Homo sapiens: one gene and its partners. The protein of the gene in region 1 interacts with the protein of each later gene in a biochemical or structural test. Each region holds a gene or a part of one and is shown in the gene's direction. Other genes may lie near its edges.

The links. Proteins that work in one complex are often made in the same cells at the same time.
Region 2: the proteins of HELLS (region 1) and DCAF8 form a complex in vitro, tested with the Homo sapiens proteins (one study listed by BioGRID).
Region 3: the proteins of HELLS (region 1) and USP11 form a complex in vitro, tested with the Homo sapiens proteins (one study listed by BioGRID).

Annotation. Positions count from the first base shown.
Region 1 is NC_000010.11:94,569,785-94,576,811, forward strand, and holds part of HELLS (lymphoid-specific helicase), read left to right. Parts: exon of another isoform or gene 1-1,603; coding exon 1,604-1,645; exon of another isoform or gene 1,646-4,175; coding exon 4,176-4,403; intron 4,404-4,769; coding exon 4,770-4,952; intron 4,953-6,877; coding exon 6,878-7,021; intron 7,022-7,027. UniProt on the Homo sapiens protein: Plays an essential role in normal development and survival. Involved in regulation of the expansion or survival of lymphoid cells. Required for de novo or maintenance DNA methylation. May control silencing of the imprinted CDKN1C gene through DNA methylation.
Region 2 is NC_000001.11:160,252,550-160,259,576, reverse strand, and holds part of DCAF8 (DDB1- and CUL4-associated factor 8), read left to right. Parts: intron 1-7,027. UniProt on the Homo sapiens protein: May function as a substrate receptor for CUL4-DDB1 E3 ubiquitin-protein ligase complex.
Region 3 is NC_000023.11:47,235,982-47,243,008, forward strand, and holds part of USP11 (ubiquitin carboxyl-terminal hydrolase 11), read left to right. Parts: intron 1-3,088; coding exon 3,089-3,198; intron 3,199-3,369; coding exon 3,370-3,500; intron 3,501-3,808; coding exon 3,809-3,926; intron 3,927-4,323; coding exon 4,324-4,469; intron 4,470-4,605; coding exon 4,606-4,667; intron 4,668-4,792; coding exon 4,793-4,895; intron 4,896-5,295; coding exon 5,296-5,469; intron 5,470-5,559; coding exon 5,560-5,718; intron 5,719-6,100; coding exon 6,101-6,325; intron 6,326-6,457; coding exon 6,458-6,541; intron 6,542-6,644; coding exon 6,645-6,739; intron 6,740-7,027.

The DNA of each region.
Region 1 (7,027 bases):
CAGGATCCGAAAAAGTTACATAAATTGTGTTTGATTAATGCGTATCTTGGGTCTCTTTTAGATCTAGAGTGTCTCTCATCTTTTTTAAGAAACATTATTTGTTGAAGAAAATGAGTAATTCTGTATAATTCCCCACATTCTAGACTTTACTGATTGTATCCCCATGATTTCTCTGCCTCTTGTGTTTCCTGTTAACTATAGTAACTATAAGTTAAATACGGAAGTTTGTGATTAAGGTGTTTTTTTATTTTTTTTTTTATTTTTATTTTTTTTTGGGAGACAAGATCTTTCTCTGTTGCCCAGGGTGGAGTGCAGTGGTGCCATCTCGGCTCATTGAACCTCTGATTGCTGGGCTCAAGCAATCCTCCCACCTCATCCTCCTGAGTAGCTGGGACTACAGGCGTGTACCACCAAGCCCAGCCAACATTTATATTTTTTGTAGAGATGGGATCTCACCATGTTGCCCATGCTTGATTTTTAATAAGAATACTTCATTGGTGGTATTTATAGATTTTGATTTATTTCCAAATTGTTCTTTCAAAAGTTTCATTTTATCTAGTCATTTTACAGGACAGCTTTTATCAGTTCCTGGTATAAAATCCTTTTAGCCTCAGCCTTATAATATGAATATCTATACATACATAATACTTCATACACACACGATATACATATATTCCCATGTATATATATGTGTGTGTGTCAGCCACTTACATGTCCTGTTACTCTTCTATGAATCTTAAATTTGATATTGCTGTTTTGAATCTACTTCATCCCCTATGCCTTCTATATTCTCTCTGCTTGAAATCTACCCTCACTATCTTGAATGATGAAGCCTGGTGACAACTTTTTAGATAATTTTATGTAAGATAATTATTTGCTAAGTCATCCAGTGACATACTCGGGTATTGTTTGTCTCCCTACCAGCAGCATCTAGTAGGTACTTCAAAATCAGAGCACTTTATTCTGTATTTTTAATTTTTTCTGTCTTTGCCTCTTACCCAGGAATGCAAACTCAGATGTCTATCCACAGAGGCCTAAAGTGGGCTGTAACATGGTTTGGCAAACTTTTTCTGTAAATAGCCAGATAGTAAATATTTTTAGCTTTTGAGTAGTTTTGTGGGCAACTACTCAACCCTGTACTCTGCTGTTGTTGCTTGAAAGCAGCCATAGACAAACCGTAAACAAGTGAGGCTGACTTTGTTCCAATTTATCCCATTTCTTTGCTTTTAAAAAAATACCTGTGTATTCGCTTAGCTGGAGTTGGTCTACAGGCTGTAGTTTGCTGACCCCAGGACTAGAGGTTTGTTGCCATGTGTGAATTTGTACTTAATCTACTCAGATTAAAAGAAAGAAAAGCTGGAAAATCACTGTATTTGATGAAATATCCCATTGTATAAGTGTTCCCAAATTAGCCTAGAATGTTATGAAATATTATGAGCCAGTAATGTCTATAGGCTTATTTCTGCCTGAAGGCTACTAGTTTTATCTTGAGAATCTCATCCTCATTTCCTGGCAAAATGAGCACAGAATAAATGCTTGTTGAATAAATAAATAAATGAACTTCATACATTATTAATTTGTTTTTGTTTTCTCAAACTACTAGGAAATTTTGTCTGTGGCTAAAAAAAATAAAAAGGAGAATGAGGTAAGAAATTTATAATGTAAGATTAAGTTTAGAAGTCATATTTACTCCTCAGTTACTAGTCCTTTTTCTTTAATCAGCAGTATACGTTCTTCTCACTATTATCCTGTTTCTTTGCTTTAAAAAAAAATACCTATGTATTCACTTCTTCCATATCCAACATTCTTCTTTTTTATGTATCAACTTTAGTTAGTTGTTTTATTGCATGATTCTTGATGTATAAATGTTAATTTATGGGTCTAGCAATGTTGCTTTTAACTTGTGAATCTGGCAGTGATACAAGTGCTCGTAACCATGTGGATATAAACCGTGAATCATCTTATGGAAGCTGTGAGGGATGCCTTAATCTTGCTTCAGACCTTAAAGATTTTTTAAGTTTCTTAAAAGTTCTGTTTGAGAAGGCTTGATTTCCGAGCCACCTCTTCACTTAGCCCATTTCATGTAGAGAGGTTCCTTGTTATCTGACTTTTTATTGTTCAAGTACTTAAAATTACAAGGTTGCCTAGGGAAGCAAAATAATCATGACATGAAAATATTCATGAATGGATATGAACTTCAGGTAGTTAATTTACATATTAAAGATTTTTAGGCCTTTGGGAAATTAATGTTATGTTTATAAAATGAGAGATAATCTATTTGGTCATATAATTTTGTCCAAAATTTATATTGTAAAAGTGTCTTGGTTTTTATTCTTTGTTAAGTTATTAAGGACTGGTTTATGGGTGCAGTTTAGTTGGATTTTTAAAGATTTAGTTAGATAAACATTTAGTTGGATTTTTAAGATAAAGTCTAGATGTAATCTTCTGTAATTTACTATGGGATTTTGGCTTCATTTTATAACTTACAGTCAGTAAGAAATAGTTGTTAAGTATGGTATTTTAATGAATTTCGACACTTGCATACACTTGTGTAACCACCATCCAAATCAAGGTATAGAACATTTCCATTGTAAAGGGATCTCTTCTATGTCTTTCCACCCCCAAACCCAGAGGAGGCCACTTTTTACACCTTTTATAGGATGGCTTATTATTTCCTTTCCACTCAACATGTCTGTGATACTCATTTATGTTGTTGAGCATATTAGTAACCGGTTTCTTCTTATTGACTAGTATTCTGTTGAATGAATGTTACAATTTTCTCATCCATCCCCTTATTGATGGGCATTTGGGTTGTTTGCAGTTTGTGACTTTTATGAGTAAGGTTGCTATGATAATTTGCACACAAGTCCATGTGTAGACATGTTTTCATACTTTCTGCCTGTGTACCTGGGAATGGTATTGTTGTGTTACGTGGCAAATGTGTGTTCATAAGAAAGTACAGATTTTCCCCCCCAAAGTAAACACATCATTTTATTCTCTCGCCAGCAATGTTTGAAAACTCCAGCTTACATTATTGTCAGCATTTGATAGTCTTTTTAATTTCAGCCATTTTATTAGATGAGAAATGGTAACTTGTGTGGTTTTTAACTTGCATTTTCCTAATTACTACTGAAGTAGAGTATATTTTTATGTTCTTTGATAACTATGTTTTCTTTCTTTTTTTTTCTTTTTTGAGATGGAGTGTCACTCTGTCGCCCAGGCTGGAGTGCAATGGCACGATCTCGGCTCACTGTAAACTCTGCCTCCCAGGTTCAAGCGATTCTCCTGCCTCAGCCTCCCAAGTAGCTGGGACAACAGGCTCATGCCACCATGTTCAGCTAATTTTTGTATTTTTAGTAGAGACAGTGTGTCACCATTTTGGCCAGGATGGTTTTGATCACTTGACCTCATGATCTGCCTGCCTTGGCCTCCCAAAATGCTGGGATTACAGGCGTGAGCCACCATGCCCGGCCTGTATGTTTTCTTTTGTAAAGTATCTGTTAATATCTTTTGCCCGTCTTATTTATGCGTACTGTATTTTCTGTGTAACAGTTTAATAAATTATTGAGTATCACAATATTAGAAGTTTGGAAGAGAGATACAATTCTAATGATCTTTTCAAAAGTATGTGCCTGATTTTAATTTGTAAGGGTTATTCTCAGATTTTTATATTTTATTTTATTTTATTTTATTTTATTTTTTGAGATGGAGTCTTCTGTCACCCAGGCTGGAGTGCAGTGGCTGTGTTCATGGCTCACTGCAGCCTTGACTTCCTGGGTTTAAGTGATCCTCAGCCTCCCGAGTAGCTGGGATACAGGCAGTTGCGTGCAACCACACCCAGCTAATTTTTTGTATTTTTAGTAGACACAGGGTTTCGCCATGTTGTCCAGGGTTGTCTTGGATACCTGGACTCAGGTGATCCTCCTGCCTCAGCTTCCCAAAGTGCTGTGATTGTAGGATTAGCCACTGTGGCAGCCTGTTATTTTTTTTTTTAGTAGCTTTTCATTTGTAGAGGGATGGCGATGTCTCCAGTTTTTTAATCCAGGTGTGATCTTAGTCTTCTATACTTAATGATTATAGGACTCAGTAGATTTTGTTAGTTGCATTTTCTGATAAATGGTGGCATACAGCAGCATTTTGTATAACACATCTTATTAAACTTTTTTTCTCTACAGGATGAAAACTCCTCCTCTACTAATCTCTGTGTGGAAGATCTTCAGAAAAATAAAGATTCGAATAGTATAATTAAAGATAGATTGTCTGAAACGGTTAGGCAGAATACTAAATTCTTTTTTGACCCAGTCCGGAAGTGTAATGGTCAGCCAGTACCTTTTCAACAACCAAAGCACTTCACTGGAGGAGTGATGCGATGGTACCAAGTAGAAGGCATGGAATGGCTTAGGGTAATGAATTGGAATTTTTAATACAAGATACTGGTTTTATTTCTATAGTAGCCTAATGATTTGAGGTACCACAACTTGAGTCATTTCTATCATGTTTCACTATTATACATTTGTATGTGGATACTTGCTTTCTGATTTCTTTACCCTGAATTTTTAGAAGTAGAAATTACCTTGTTAATGGCTTCCAGCACTTTTATGGCTTTGATAAAGGACTTTCCAGTGTTGTTATAATTTATGGTGTGAATATATCAGCTTTAACATAATTCTCATCTTTGGGTGTGATTTTTTAAAGAGAAGAAATAAAATATTGTAATCCTGTAGTTGTTTATATCCAAGTTTAAATACAGTATCTATTATTTTGTCCAGATGCTTTGGGAAAATGGAATTAATGGCATTTTAGCAGATGAAATGGGATTGGGTAAGACAGTTCAGTGCATTGCTACTATTGCATTGATGATTCAGAGAGGAGTACCAGGACCTTTTCTTGTCTGTGGCCCTTTGTCTACACTTCCTAACTGGATGGCTGAATTCAAAAGATTTACACCAGATGTAAGACATGCTTCCTTATGTTAAAATTATAATTTTACATGTTTTCTTATGCTTTGTTGTAGTAGGAATTAAATTGTAGAACTCTTATAATTATATTGGTTTCTGTATAAATATTTTGTCTGATTTGACTTACTCAATCTGCACAATACCCTAATTTAAATTTATATAGTATAGGTTTTGGAAATCCCTGACATCTTTCCTAAAATATTCCTGAATGATTTTCAGTGCATTGGTAATTTGATTCGACTGAGACAGACTTAGGTAGAGATTTTATTAAAAATTCTGCTTGTTCTTCACTTGATCTTTGCCAAAAGGCTAAGAAGAGAGTTTTCTGTTTTTTCTGTACTTGTTACCTTCTGCAATTTTTTTTTTTTTTTTTTTTTTTGAAATGGAGTCTCTGTTACCCAGGCTGGAGGGCAGTGATGCAGTCTTGGTTCACTGCAATCTCTGCCTCCCATGATGAAGCAATTCTTGTGCCTGAGCCACCGGAGTAGCTGGGATTACAAGCATGTGCCACCATGCCCAGCTAATTTTATGTTTTTAGTAGAGACGATGTCTTGCCATGTTGGCCAGGCTGGTCTTGAACTCCTGGCCTGAAGAGATCTGCCCACTTTGGCCTCTCAAAGTACTGGGATTATAGACGTGAGCCACTGTACCTCCCGGGCCCAGCCCTTCTGCACATTTTTGCCTTATGAGAAATATATATATTCTAGACGTAGTATCACCATCTGTCTCATTTTATATATTTATATATATATTATTTATTTATTTATTTTGAAATGGAGTCTGTCTCTGTCACCATGCTGGAGTGTAGTAGCTGGGACTACAGGCGCACACCACAAGGCCAGGCTAATTTTTTGTATTTTGGTAGAGACAGGATTTCACCATGTTGGCCAAGATGGCCTCTATCTCCTGACCTTGTGATCCGCCCACCTTGGCCTCCCACAGTGGTGGGATTACAGGTGTGAGCCACTGCGCCCAGCCTATATGTGTTTTATGTATTTGTAGGTTTTTTGTTGGGGGGGGGGTTGTGTTTGTGTGTGTGTGTGTGTGTGTGTGTGTGTGTGTGTGTGTGTGTATGACAGAGTTTCACTGTTGTTGCCCAGGCTGGAGTGCAATGGCACGATCTCGGCTCAGTGCAACCTCCGCCTCCCGGGTTCAAGCGATTCTCCTGTCTCAGCCTCCCAGGTAGCTGGGATTACGGGCGTGCGCCACCACGCCTGGCTAATTTTGTATTTTTAGTAGTGACGGGGTTTCTCCATGTTGGTCAGGCTGGTCTGGAACTCCCGACCTCAGGTGGTCTGCCCGCCTCAGCTTCCCAAAGTGCTGGGGATTACAGGTATGAGCCATCCCACCTGGCCCGTCTATTTGTTTTTATGCCTTTTTTTTTGTCTTCAGACAGGATGTTGCTCTGTTGCTCAGGCTGGAGTGCAGTGGCGTCATTCTGGCTCACTGTGGCCTTCACCTCCCAGGCTCATGTGAGCCTGCTATCTCACACGCCTGAGTAGCTCATGTGAACCTCCCATCTCACTCCACTGGGTGAGTAGCTGGCACTACGGGTGCGTACCACCACACCAGCTAATTTTTGTATTTTTTGTAGAGATGGGATTTCTCCATGTTGCTCAGGTTGATCTCGAACTACTGGACTTTAGAGATCGGCTTGCCTTGGCTTCCCAAAGTGTTGAGATTATAGGTGTGAGCCATTGTGCTGGGCCTGACTTTGTTTTTTTGTTTGTTTTTTTTTCATTTTCTCCCATAATAGTTCAATGATTTGTTAGAATTGCTTGGCTTATTTTGCTATAGAAAAATAGAAATAAAATTTTTTAAAATTATATTTTTTCCCTCAGAATGATTTATATTTTCTAAATAGTCAATATTTACATTTTGTTCTTAAGTCTGATAAAAATCAATATAAAATTTTTCAGATCCCTACAATGTTATATCATGGAACCCAGGAGGAACGTCAAAAATTGGTAAGAAATATTTACAAACGGAAAGGGACTTTGCAGATTCATCCTGTGGTAATCACGTCATTTGAAATAGCCATGAGAGACCGAAATGCGTTACAGGTACAA
Region 2 (7,027 bases), on another chromosome or scaffold:
GGGGAGTTAGGAATGAAGAGGTTTTTTTTGTTTGTTTGTTTGTTTTTTGACGAGTCTTGCTCTGTCACCAGGCTGGGGTGCTGTGGCGCGATCTCAGCCCACTGCAACCTCCGACTCCCTGGTTCAAGCGATTCTCCTGCCTCAACCTCCCGAGTAGCTGGGATTACAGGCATGCGCCACCATGCCCAGCTAATTTTTGTATTTTTAGTAGAGGAGGGGTTTCACCATGTTGGCCAGGGTGGTCTCAATCTCCTGACCTTGTGATCTGCCCGCCTCAGCCTCCCAAAGTGCTAGGATTACAGGTGTGAACCACCATGCCCGGCCAAAGAGTTCTTTTTTCAGCTCCACAGCTGGACCGTCTTAATAATATGACAGCACAGATGAAGAGTTTTAAACCTTTTGTTGGCTTTTCTTTCGTATCTTTTTGGCAAGGGCACATGAAAATTAAGTACTGATAATATCACAATGAAAGCAGCTGTGTCATTCAGACCAGTGACCATTTTAGGTTTGATGAACTTTTCATTACCATCATCCAGGGTCTAAATTCTCCATTGTAAGGTAAGGATTCTCCAGGGTGGTGGTGAGGTGGGTTGAGATTGCATTTGTATCATTTGTGTTTTTATGAACTCTGAAGATCCATGTCGGGTGAAGGAAAGGATGGGAGGAGAAAAGGAAATACTTTGAAAGAGGGATAACTTGGACTGTTTATTTCCTTATGTGCTGGGTAAGAATGTCCAGGTGACATCTATATGTAGTAAATCAGTATTTCTAGTCTGTGGACCACACTGTAAACTTTTTATCTTTCTAAAGTTTTTTTTATTTTTGTAGAGATAGGGTCTCACTTTGTTGCCTAGGCTGGTCTCAAACTCCTGGGCTCAAGTGATCTTCCCACCTCAGCTGAGTAGCTGGGACCGCAGGGGCATATCACCATACCTAGCTAATTTTTGGTTGTTTTTTTTTTGTTTGTTTGTTTTTTTAAAGAGATGAGGTCTTACTTGCCCGGCTCAAGTGATGCTCCCATCTTGGCCTCCCAAAGTGCTGGGATTACAGGCATAGCCGCAGCACCCAGCTTGAAGATATTTTTATATTTCCAGGGTTTTAGGTGTTTACTTAAGAATTGTGACATCTTATTAGGTAGTATTTCCTAGGATGATTAGAGTGGGAGGCTAAGAATGCTTGTGACCTTTTAGTTCCCACCACCAACCTCTTAAAGTGCAGTCTATTTATTTATTTTTGAAATAGGATCTCACTCTGTCACCTAGAGTGCAGTGGCACTATCATGGCTCACTGCAACCTCGACCTCTTGGGCTTAGGTGATTCTCCCATCTCAGCCTCTCGAGTAGCTGGGACTACAGGTGCACGCCACCGTACCTGGCTAATTTTTGTATTTTTTGTAAAGATGAGGTTTCACCATATTGCCCAGGCTGGTTTCAAACCCCTGGGCTCAAGCAATCCTCCTGCCTCAGCCTCCCAGAGTGCTGGGATTACAGGCGTGAGCCACTGCACCCTGCTAAATGCAGTCAATTAAATGTATAAGAATCTGCCAGGCTGAGTGCGGCTGGCTCATGGCTGTAATCCCAGCACTTTTGGGAGGCCAAGGTGGGAGGATCACTTGATCCTAGTTGTTCAAGTCCAGCCTAGGCAATATTGAGACCTTGTCTCTACAAAAAGTTTAAAAAAAAAGCCAAGCATGGGGCAAGTACTTGCAGTCCCATCTCCTTGGGAGGCTGAGGTGGGAGGATTGTTTGAGTCCAGGAGGTAGAGCTGAGATTGCGCAGTGATCACTGCAGTGCGCTGAGATTGCGCCTCTGCAGTTTAGTATGGGCAACAGAGCGAGACCTAGTCTCAAAAAAAAGAATCAGTTCCAGTGCCATGGTCCTTAGTGTGGAGTAGGACCAACCTAAGACAGAAGCTTGTCTACAGAGAGCTGAAAGAAAGCAGCCTCTTTGTTGCCAGTTTAAAACAATACTGGCATTTTAAAAGCAAACAGATTCTAGTAGGAGACATTGTATAGAAGCGCACCCTGTTGTGAAAGACTGGGATCTTGAGTTTCGTGCTCTAAGTCTTGTATTCTATCAGGGGAGTAATAGGCTTTTAAAATCATAAAGTGACTATTAAAATGCTTTCAGTAGATAGATTCATTACTCCATTATTTCTACTGTATAAAAGTTTATTCTAAACATGTCTAGGAAATATCCAGATTATAAAAGAGAAATAACGGTATCCAAACCAGACTTTTTATTGCATAACATTGGTGTTAGAGTTAGTTTTTAAGTCTCTGAGATTGAATTAGCTTTTTTTTTTTTTAAAGCAGATTATCAGTGAGCTAAGATAATCTGCTGTTTACCCTCACCTATTTGGAACACAGGCAACTGAATTAATTGAATCAGCAATAGGCATGGGGTAGTGACTTTGTATATTTTCATTTTAGAGCCAAAAGCCAGTGAGTTTTAGATTAGCTTTATAGTAATATTAAAAACTTCATCTTTTATTTTTACAAATGTAGCCAAGAAACATCATTGCTGTTAAAATCAGTCAGAAAAGGAGGCTACTTGCTCTTTATTGATTTAGTCATTCTGCTCTTGGAGTGAGTAGAAAGTCTTTGAAAGCTTTTCAAAAATTAGCGAGTGATGAATTTTATGAATTAGTCACTTCTTTGCAGCAGTTTTTTTTTATCTCTACCTCTGTAGGACATAGTTCCTGGGCCAGAAGCCAGATTTCTCAAGTACCATCTAACCCCAGGAATGTGTTATGATACAGATAAATTAATGAACGGAGGCTGCCTTGAGGTTGCCAATAGGGCATTGGGGAGTAATTAATATGACAAAGATGTCATCTTATTAATGAAATGTATTAATAGTATGTCTAGTGGATTGGGTCAATGCAAACATTTTAGATTAGATATTTGCTGTTTATCCTCTGAAGTTACTGTTTAAGGAAGTCTGGCCAAGTTCTAAAGTGAAGCATACATATTTGCCTCACGTGCCATTTTTTTTTTTCTTCCTGGCTTTTTCTTAGCCATCTGGAAAGCTACTATAGGGTTTACCTCTAATGGTAGTCAAGTTACTGTATTCCTCTGGTGTACTTTAATGATTGCCACATTACCAGGTATGTTTTGTTAACCTTACTTAGAATCCAACATTAGACCCTTTCTTCTAACCTAACCTGTAGGAAGGCACTTCTTGAGGTTTTAAGCCTCTCTTTAATGTTTTATTGTAAGTTGTACCTTGGGAGCATCATTTTTTCATCTTAAATCCTCTCCAGTTTAAGAAAAATTTGAAATATAAATGGCAAAAACTGTTAATGGCAACAGACTTCTGATGTAAATGTAAATTGAGATGGAAACAAAATGAAAAGTAGATTTCCCTAGGAATTAGTTAAACTGAGATAAATGGTCCTGGATGTTTTTATAGAAAGTTCTCTTAGCCAGGTGCAGTGGCATGTACCTGTAATCCCAACTACTCGGGGGGCTGAGTTGGGAGGACTGCTTGAGCCCAGGAGTTTCAGGCTGGCAACATAGCAAGACCTTGTCTCTTAAAAAAAAAAAAAAAAAAAAAAAAAAAAGTTTGCTTAGTTCTGCTGCTGGAAATTAACACTTAAGGGTTAGAGTGCATTCCTGACATAGTCTGAAATACTGTTATTAGAATTAAAGCCAGAGGCCATGCACGGTGGCTTACATCTGTAATCCCAGCATTTTGGGAGGCTGAGACGGGCGGATCACCTGAGGTCAGGAGTTTGAGACCAGCCTAGCCAACATAGCAAAACCCTGTGTCTACTAAAAATATAAAAATTAGCCAGCTGCAGTGGCATGCACCTGTAGTCCCAGCTACTTGGGAGGCTGAGGCGGGAGAATTGCTTGAACCCAGAAGGCAGAGGTTGCAGTGACCCAATATCACACCAGTGTACTCCAGCCTGGGTGACAGAGTGAGACCCTGTCTCAAAAAAATAAAAATAAAAAAACAATAATTAAAGCCAGTAAACTATAAACACTGGGCATTTTATGTTACCAATAGGGAGAGAAGGCATTAATTCAAAGAAGGAACAAAGTTCCTTATTCATAGTTTGAATCCTCATCATTATCCATGGTGATTGCTTTGCAGTCTTCCATCTTGGGTATCCTCAGAACCTTCAAGAGGGAGAAGAGGCCAGGTGTGGTGGTACATACCTATAATCCCAGCACTTTGGGAGGCCAAGGTAGGAGGATTACTTGAGCTCAGGAGTTTGAGACCACGCGGCAAGATAGTGAGACTCCGTCTCTACGATAATAATAGTAAAAAAATCTATTTTAAAAATTAAAAGAGGGAGAAAAACTTAGGGAGGCTTATATTGTGGGTTCCTGGGTAGATTGTCTTACTGCAGTTCGTAGAACATGAATACTTGAAAGAAGATATTAACGGAGCTCTCTGAATTCTTTAAAACGCCAGAAAGGGTAAGCAGATTTCATAGACTTGGGACTGTGTCCTATATTATATACGATGTTTGGAGAATCATTGCTGAGTGGTAAAGAGGTCCAGGATTTTCTAGGAAATGTAGTCTGGTATAGAGATGGGAAACTAGAAAAATAATATAAATGGCTACTATGTACAAACAGGCTCTTAGCATACATTATTTTTAATCCTCTAAATTCCTGCAGGGTGGTAATATTATCCCATTTTACAAAAGAAAAACTCAAAAGCAGGTGGTAGAGGTAGAATTCAAACCCAGGTCTGTTTGACACCAAAGCCCTTTTCTTTCTTTCATAACACATGCTGTCTTTAAAAATAGGACTTTTCTTTTTTCTTTTTTTTTTAGATGGAGTCTTGCTTTGTCGCCAGGCTGTAGTGCAGTGGCATGACTTGGCTCACTGAAACCTTCCCCTCTCGGGTTCAAGCAGTCCTCCTGCCTCAGCCTCCGAGTAGCTAAGACTACAGGCGCATGCCACCATGCCCAGCTAATTTTTGTATTTTTAGTAGAAATGGGGTTTTACCATGTTGGCCAAGATGGTCTTGATCTCTTGACCTCGTGATCCACCCGGCCCGGCCTCCTAAAGTGTGGGGATTACAGGCGTGAGCCATGGTACCTGGCCAAAAAAAAAACCAGGGCTTTTCAAAGCCAAGAGATGAAGCTGAAAGGTAGAATTAAATATTTCTTATAAACATATGTATATAAATTATTCAAATGACAGTAGGAATACAAACTTTTTTTATTGTTTAGACATAGTTATGCTATATTGGTAAGCTAATGAGTTTTTAAGAAAACAATTTTTTTTTTTTTTTGAGACAGAGTTTCGTTCTTTGGCCCAGGTTGGAGTGCAGTGGCACAATCTTGGCTCATTGCAACCTCTGCCTTCCAGTTTCATGCGATTCTTCTGCCTCAGTCTCCCCAGTAGCTGGGATTACAGGCATGCACCACCATACCTAGCTTATTTTTGTATTTTTAGTAGAGACGGAGCTTCACCATGTTGGCCAGGCTGGTCTCAAACTCCTGACCTCATGATCCGCCTGCCTCGGCCTCCCAAAGTGTTGGGATTACAGGCATGAGCCACGCACCCATCCCAGGAAATAATTTTTATAGATTTAAGAGATAGCTGAATCCTAGTGTTTTATGATTCTTTACTGGAGAGAAAATCAGCATTCCATTCAATCTCTGAGATAATTCCAGGGGAAAAGCTGTTCTGACTCTTACAGCCTTTTGACAGTATACTGTTCTCTGTATTTTTTTGGAAGCATGGACTATCCTCCTTACCTTCTTGGTTTTTTTGTTTGTTTTTCTGAGACAGGGACTTGCTCTGTCACCCAGGCTGGAGTGCAGTGACCCCATCACAGTTCACTGCAATCTCGACCTCTGGGACTCCAGTGATCCTCCCACTTCAGCCTCCCAAGTAGCTGGGACTACAGGTGTACACCACCACACCCTGCTATTTTTTTTTTTTTTTTTTTTTTTTTTTTTTGAGATGGAGTCTCACCCTGTCGCACAGGCTGGAGTGCAATGGTGCGATCTCGGCTCACTGCAACCTTTGCCTCCCAGGTTCAAGTGATTCTCCTGCCTCAGCCTCCTGAGTAGCTGGAATCACAGGCGTATGCCACCGCGTGTGGCTAATTTTTGTATTTTTAGTAGAGACAGGGTTTCACCATGTTGGCCAGGCTTGTCTCAAACTCCTGACCTCAGGTGATCCACCCGCCTCAGCCTCCCAAAGTGCTGGGATTACCAGCGTCACTTAGACGTCAGCCACTGTGCGCAGCCTAATTTTTAAATTTTTTCTAGAGACAGGGTCTCCTGATGTTGCCCAGGTTGGTCTCAAATTCCTGGACTCAAGCGATCCTCCAGCCTCAGCCTCCCAAAGTGCTGGGATTACAGGCATGAGTCACTGCGCCCAGCCTATCCTCACCTTGAAACCTTTTTATTCTTGACTTCCAGAGGTTTAATTTTGATTATTCGTTCTTCTCAATTTTTCTCTCTGCTCTCCTTTCTCTTCTCTAAGGGTAGGTATTCCTCAAGATTCTTCCCTTGAACATCCTCTCCCAGAGCCTTCTTAGGTAACTAATTGTTTGTTTTAGTGAGATATGATTTACAAGGTGTTTGATTTTGAAGTTTCTCTGTACAGATAATTCACAAGTCTGTATCTCTGGCCTTACTTTATTTAAGTTCCAAACTTAAATTTGTTCGTCAGTACCTTCCTAACATGTCGGCTTGGATTTTAAATTTATTCAGAATAATTTCTCATCCCACCTGCCAGCTTCTCATTTGTGTCACTTGATTTTCTCTGGGCGCCAGACTAAGAACTTGTCCTTCTTAACTCAGCTTTGTAACTGCTTATTGAGCTAAACATTATCTACCTTTACAACGATTCTCATGTTGATCCCTTTTTAATTCCTTTTGCCATCAACCCAAGACAGCCCCTCATTACTTCTTATCTTGGCAACTATAATAGCTTTTAAACTTGTTTCTCTTTCCTTTTCCTTCATTTCAGTCCATCTTATTATCTTTGACAAAATAATTTCTCTGATGCCTGACTGCCTGCCCCCCAACAACAAAGCTTTTATTATAC
Region 3 (7,027 bases), on another chromosome or scaffold:
GACATCCTGTCATCCTTGATAATACGCTTTAAAATTACCCCACCAGTACTGGGTTTTCTTTTGGGATGATGAAATATTTTGGAACTAGGGAGAGGTTGTGGTTGTACAACATTGTGAATGTTCTAAATGCCGCTGAATTGTTCACTTTAAGATGGTTAATGTTATGTTATGTGAATTTCACCTCATTAAAAAAATTACCACACCAGTGTTGGTTCAGTGTTGAAGCCGGTTTGTCTCTGCTGTCATGGGTATTATCATGAAGCATTTTTGCTAAACTCCACTTTGTTAATGCTTCTCTAGTAAGAGCAAAGCATCTCAAGGTTCTTTATTGCTGTCCATTTTCCATTTTACAGGGGTTTGCTTAAGTGGCCAGGATATATGTGTTTATAAAGCATTTTGAAGTCATGGACTAACCCCAAATCATATATCTTGTATCAGTATTAATATTTGCACCTTCTGTCTTTTGTCAGCTGGCAGATTTGGGTGAGGGTAGTTAATTAATTTGGTCATCACAACTGATTTAATTTCTGGGAGAAGCTTGTATTTTAAGGCAAATTCAAATCTGTAATAATATAGCCTCCTTGGAAATTTTCACTTTTTCCTTTTGTGGGATGAACCATCTTCAAACACAAATCAGACACAAGAGAAAACTAGAAGACAGAAAATAAAGAATTGTTTAGCAACTTTTTTCCATAAGCACATATTTCATATCATTTCAACAAATTTGAGGAAGCACGAATAAACCTAAGTGACTTTAGCAAGATCAGTTGTACCTGTATATACTGGCAGCAAGAAACTAGAAAATTAAAATTTATGATACCATTTATGATAGCATCCAAAAAATTGAATACCCAGCTGTAAATATAATAATTTGGGTGTTATTGATACAGACCATGACACCTTTGTTGTGACTGCCACCTGGCCTGACAGAGATTGTGAGACATCCTGATTTCAGAGATGTTAACAATGATTTTTTTAAAGTGTCTTTGACTTGAAGCAATATGGTAATAATTTTCTGTGAAAAATTATGTAAAATGTCAGTCCTCTATGAAATCTATAGAAGTTCAGCCTGTGACCAGGTCTGGAAGTTTTGCTTACCACTCTACAGCGTGATTTTAATGTTATTTTTTGTTCAAAATCTGCTCTTAAAAAGAAGTTGAGCAGTGCCTACCTTTGCATTGGAAGGTACTGTTAACTATAGCTTTACTGAACAAATTAACTTCATAGACTGGCTATGGAGGCAAGTAAAGCCACAAAGGGTGGATGGTGGTGTGTGGGGTGCAGGGTTGGGTCTGAGCATTGAGCCACCGGCACAGAAGGGTTTGTTTCCCTGGTGTGAGTGATATGGGGCAGGGTCTGTGGGGGTCAGTGCAGCAAAAAAACAAAACCAACAAAAAACCCACAGAAATGTTTGCCTATCTAGGTGACTTGTGACTATTCCAAGATTTGTCTGTCCCTCCATCCTCCCACCTCTCTGATCCTTTCATGAACAAGGGAAAGTTGACATTTTAAAGAATCACATTGATGAGGTTAAATTGGGAGAATCGCTTGAACCCGGCAGGCAAAGGTCGCAGTGAGCTGAGATTGTGCCACTGCACTCCAGCCTGGGCGACAGAGCAAGACTCTGTCTCAAAAAATGATAATAATAATAATGAGGTTAAATTGCTTGAAAACCAGCCAATATAATGTTATGTGCATTTCATCAAATTTGGTTATTTTTTAAAAAGCATTTATTTGAGGCTGCTCAGTATTTGGGATAGCCTTTTATGTGTCAGAAATGCCACAGCAGAACAGGTGTGTGTGTATGTGTGTGTGTGTGTGTGTGTGTGTGTGTGTGTGTGTGTGTTTAGGCAGGAGGAGGTTTATGTCTGTGAGCTTTTATGTCCAAGTCCTGAAGTCCAAGCTGTCAGAACAATGACAGCTAAAATTCATTTAGCACTTATTATATGTCAAGTATTTTCCAAACTTCAGGATTTCTCACAAAGGTAGATTTCAATATAGTTCTAAATGGTTATCCTTGTAGTACATATAAGTTTCACCTTTAAAAGAGAGCTAGTTGAACTGTATACTGAAAAATGCTTGATGGTAAGTTTTATGTTACATGTTTTTATCACAGTTTTTAAGAGAACCATAAGCTCAGGAATTTACTATAAAGCCAAAGTAAATTCTAAATTAAAAAATGATGAACAATAGCAATATGCAGTTCTTTTTTTTTTTTTTTTTTTTGAGATGGAGTCACTCTGTCGCACAGGCTGGAGTGCAGTGATGCAGTCTCGGCTCACTGCAACCTCTGCCTCCAGGGTTCAAGTGATTCTCATGCCTCTGCCTCCCAAGTAGCTGGGATTACAGGCACGTGCCAGCACACCTGGCTAATTTGTTGTATTTTTTAGTAGAGACGGTTTCACCATGTCAGCCAGGCTGGTCTTGAACTCCTGACCTCAGGTGATCCACCCGTCTTGACCTCCCAAAGTGCTGGGATTACTGGCGTGAGCCACTGTGCCCGGTCTTTTTTTTTTTTTTTTTTTTTTTTCAGTATGCAGTTTTTGAAGGAAAACCTTATGATTCTTTTTAGCATTTTAAATTCTTTGCTCCTTTTAAAAGCAGATTTTTCACCATTTATCAAATCTAGTTCTTAGCTGAAGAATTATGCTTCCATTGATAGATCCTTTAGAAACAAACACATAATGAATGGCTAAAGCCTTATAAAATTAGCTGCAGATGGCACATATCTTGAGCCTAACTTAACTGGGTTATCCCACAGACTAATTCAAATGAATCATCTTTTATTCTATAATAAAACCTCATGTTTCCTAGCACTATAAGTATGGATTTTTTGTTGGTTTGTTTGCCATTGTTAACCACATTTTCTGTTTTTAATCAGATTTCTTTTTTAATACTAAGAAGTTATCTAACATACAAATCTGAGTTTCACTGAATAAATTTTGCTTCGAATTTATTTTTATATGATGCTGAAACTTTTCATCTTAAATTATAATGTGTCAATACTTTCAGTCTGTTGGGCATGGGAAGTTGTATAGCTAACCCTCAGCTACCCATGTAACACCCTTGTTACCTGTCTGGGCCCCAGGTTCCTTGTGGAGAAGCACTGGTATAAGCAGTGGGAGGCATACGTGCAGGGAGGGGACCAGGACTCCAGCACCTTCCCTGGCTGCATCAACAATGCCACACTCTTTCAAGGTACAAGGCCTTTGCCTCCTTCTCACCCTAGCCCTGGAGTTCTTGTCCCTTCCGTCCCTACAGATGATCATAAGCCCATTCTGTGTGCTAGGTCACTGGTGGGGTGGCCAGAGTCATTCGTCAGTTTCCTTTGTTGATTCTTCCTCTGCCACCTCCACCCCCGCCCCACAGATGAGATAAACTGGCGCCTCAAGGAGGGACTGGTGGAAGGCGAGGATTATGTGCTGCTCCCAGCAGCTGCTTGGCATTACCTGGTCAGCTGGTATGGTCTAGAGCATGGCCAGCCACCCATTGAACGCAAGGTATAATGGATGGGGAGGGTGCATGGCGGGGAGTGCGTAGTAAGAAAGCCTTGTAGGCCCAGCATGGGTACAGATCCATGTATGCTGGGTAGGTACACATATGTCTGCTCTCTTCCCCCTCCTAGCTCATCATACAGGTATCTTTGTCTGCTGTGTGTGTTCCCCTGTGTGGCTCTCTTTACAGACCATTGTATATGTGTGTTTGTATGCTATGTTTGTAAGGCAGAGTGTGTGCTCCTCTCATTTGAGAGGTCACAGCGCTGTGTCTGTGTGAGTACACCTGTGTCTGCACCCCTCTACTCTTACAGGTCATAGAGCTGCCCAACATCCAGAAGGTCGAAGTGTACCCAGTAGAACTGCTGCTTGTCCGGCACAATGATTTGGGCAAATCTCACACTGTTCAGTTCAGCCATACCGATTCTATTGGTGAGTCTAAGGGTCACGCAATGGGTTGGTGTTCCTAGCTACTAGTCCCAACTCAGTGACTTGAGGTTGCATAGGGTTAAGCTGAAGCTGACTGAGAAGGCACTGGTCAGACTTTGGAAGACCCAGAAGGCATTGGCTAAGTTGGGTGGAGGCACTGAGGGGATCTACTAGAGCCCTGAGGGTATGTGAGCTACATTCTAGTGGCTTACGTGGTGTGGCAGAGGATATTTGCTGGAGATCTCCAGTCTGGAGTGTGGGCCAGTCATTTGGAGACTGATTGAGGACACAGGTATTGGCCAAGCATGTGAGGTCCGTAGGGATGAGTCAGGTATGCCCAGATGGATTGATCATTTTGGGTCTCACAAAGATCTTGAATGTACTCCATCACCCCGCACAGGCCTAGTATTGCGCACAGCTCGGGAGCGGTTTCTGGTGGAGCCCCAGGAAGACACTCGGCTTTGGGCCAAGAACTCAGAAGGCTCTTTGGATAGGTTGTATGACACACACATCACGGTTCTCGATGCGGCCCTTGAGACTGGGCAGGTAAGGGTGGGGAGGGCTTTTCTGTTCAGGTGGACTGGCAGATAGACTCACCTGGCAGTACTCGGGGGAAATGAAGGCTAGGTACCCATAATGTCCTCCATTAATACCTTTCCTTCTTTCTCTTTCTCCAACCCAGTTGATCATCATGGAGACCCGCAAGAAAGATGGCACTTGGCCCAGCGCACAGCTGCATGTCATGTGAGCCCTTGGGGTATCTGGTCCAGAGCGGGGGCGTCCCACAGTAGGCAAAATGATTTAGCCCATGAGCACATTGCACCCCCATGCAGCAGGCCCTCAGCTGACAGTTTCTCATCTAACCCCAGGAACAACAACATGTCGGAAGAGGATGAGGACTTCAAGGGTCAGCCAGGCATCTGTGGCCTCACCAATCTGGGCAACACGTGCTTCATGAACTCGGCCCTGCAGGTTGGGCCATTATAGTTGTGTCTGGCACAGCCACGTGGTTGGGCTTCAAGAGCTGAGGATTGGGGACAGAGCTGGGGTCCTGAGGGGACTACAGGGCAAGGGGTCAGGATGAAAGCTGAGGCCCCACAAGTCTGAAGTGGCACGCCCACGTTCATTCCTGAACTATCAGCCTCTTCTCTCAGCTTGCCCTCATTTTCCCTCTTCTCTTCCCTGTTCCCACGTTCTTCCTTCTCGTGAAATCCTAATGCCTTCTCTCCCCTACTCTCCTGCTCCTCTCTCTCCTCCCTTCCCCTTCTCTCTTGTTTTCCTCTCTCTTTCCTCCTGGCTTCTTTTTGTGTATCCTCACTTTGAACCTTCTGTCTCCCCTCTGCCTCATTCACCTGGTCTCTGGCCTCTGCAGTGCCTCAGCAATGTGCCACAGCTCACCGAGTACTTCCTCAACAACTGCTACCTGGAGGAGCTCAACTTCCGCAACCCACTGGGCATGAAGGGTGAGATCGCAGAGGCCTATGCAGACCTGGTGAAGCAGGCGTGGTCTGGCCACCACCGCTCCATTGTGCCACATGTGTTCAAGGTGTGACTCAACCCTGGGCACCCCCGACCCCCTACGTCTCTTGGCTCTCCTAACTCCCTCTCTCTCTGATGACCCTGCCCATCTTCTTAGAACAAGGTTGGCCATTTTGCATCCCAATTTCTGGGCTACCAGCAGCATGACTCTCAGGAGCTGCTGTCATTCCTCCTGGACGGGCTGCATGAGGACCTTAATCGGGTGAAGAAGAAGGAGTATGTGGAGCTGTGCGATGCTGCTGGGCGACCGGATCAGGTAGGCTGCCCCCGCATTTGCAGTCCAATTAACATCACCAAGGCCTCTGCCTCGGGGATTTTCTGGCCTCCCTGGGGTATCTAACACGCCACCATTTTCTGTTAAGTTTCTCTACCTGACCTCAACTCCAGCCTTACTCTTAACCTTAGTTGCAATACCATATCTGCCCCCACAGTCAACCCAGAGTAAACCCCAGCGCAGTCTCCTGCCCTAAATGACCCCCAGTCTTGACCGTGAACATAGTCTCTGTGTATCCCTAGCTGGAGCTCTGCCTCTGGACTTTAGCAGTGGCCTTCCGCTTCACCCCATTTGAATGCACCCCAAGCCATGGTTTCCTCTTACCCTGGGCAAGCCCCACCACCCACCATGACACTATCAACAGGAGGTGGCACAGGAGGCATGGCAAAACCACAAACGGCGGAACGATTCTGTGATCGTGGACACTTTCCACGGCCTCTTCAAGTCCACGCTGGTGTGCCCCGATTGTGGCAATGTATCTGTGACCTTCGACCCCTTCTGCTACCTCAGTGTTCCACTGCCTATCAGCCACAAGAGGGTCTTGGAGGTCTTCTTTATCCCCATGGATCCGCGCCGCAAGCCAGAGCAGGTGTGGGGCAGTGGGGGCCTGGGGAGATGATGATGGACACATAGAGTTTGATTAGCTGCCATAGCTCAAGGCTTCTTGCATTAACTCACCACAAGCCCTTTTGGTCTTTTGTGGATACCGTTTTTCCCTTAGCACCGGCTCGTGGTCCCCAAGAAAGGCAAGATCTCGGATCTATGTGTGGCTCTGTCCAAACACACGGGCATCTCGCCAGAGAGGGTGAGACTGCAGAAGGAGGCTGGATGGGATTCCAGGGCAAGGAGGCAGAAGGGCCTGGGAGGCCGTGCAGACTAACAGTCCCCTCTCCATATCCCATTCCTAGATGATGGTGGCTGATGTCTTCAGTCACCGCTTCTATAAGCTCTATCAGCTAGAGGAGCCTCTGAGCAGCATCTTGGACCGTGATGATATCTTCGTGTGAGTGGGGATGGCAGGGAGGTGGTGGTTCCTCAGGAACTTGGTCCACTTCCTTTTGTATGGTCCTGCCTTAACCACCTTCTCTCTTCCCTGCCTCTGCCTCGTTCACTGGGCACCTGCCCTGCGCAGAGCTTCAGCCACATGCCTTGGGAGGCTGAGGCAGGAGAATCACTTGAACCCGAGAGGTTCAAGTGAGCCAAGATCACGCCACTGCACTCCAGTCTGGGCGACAGGGCAAAACTCCATCTCAAAAATAAATAAAGCCGGGCGCGGTGGCTCACGCCTGTA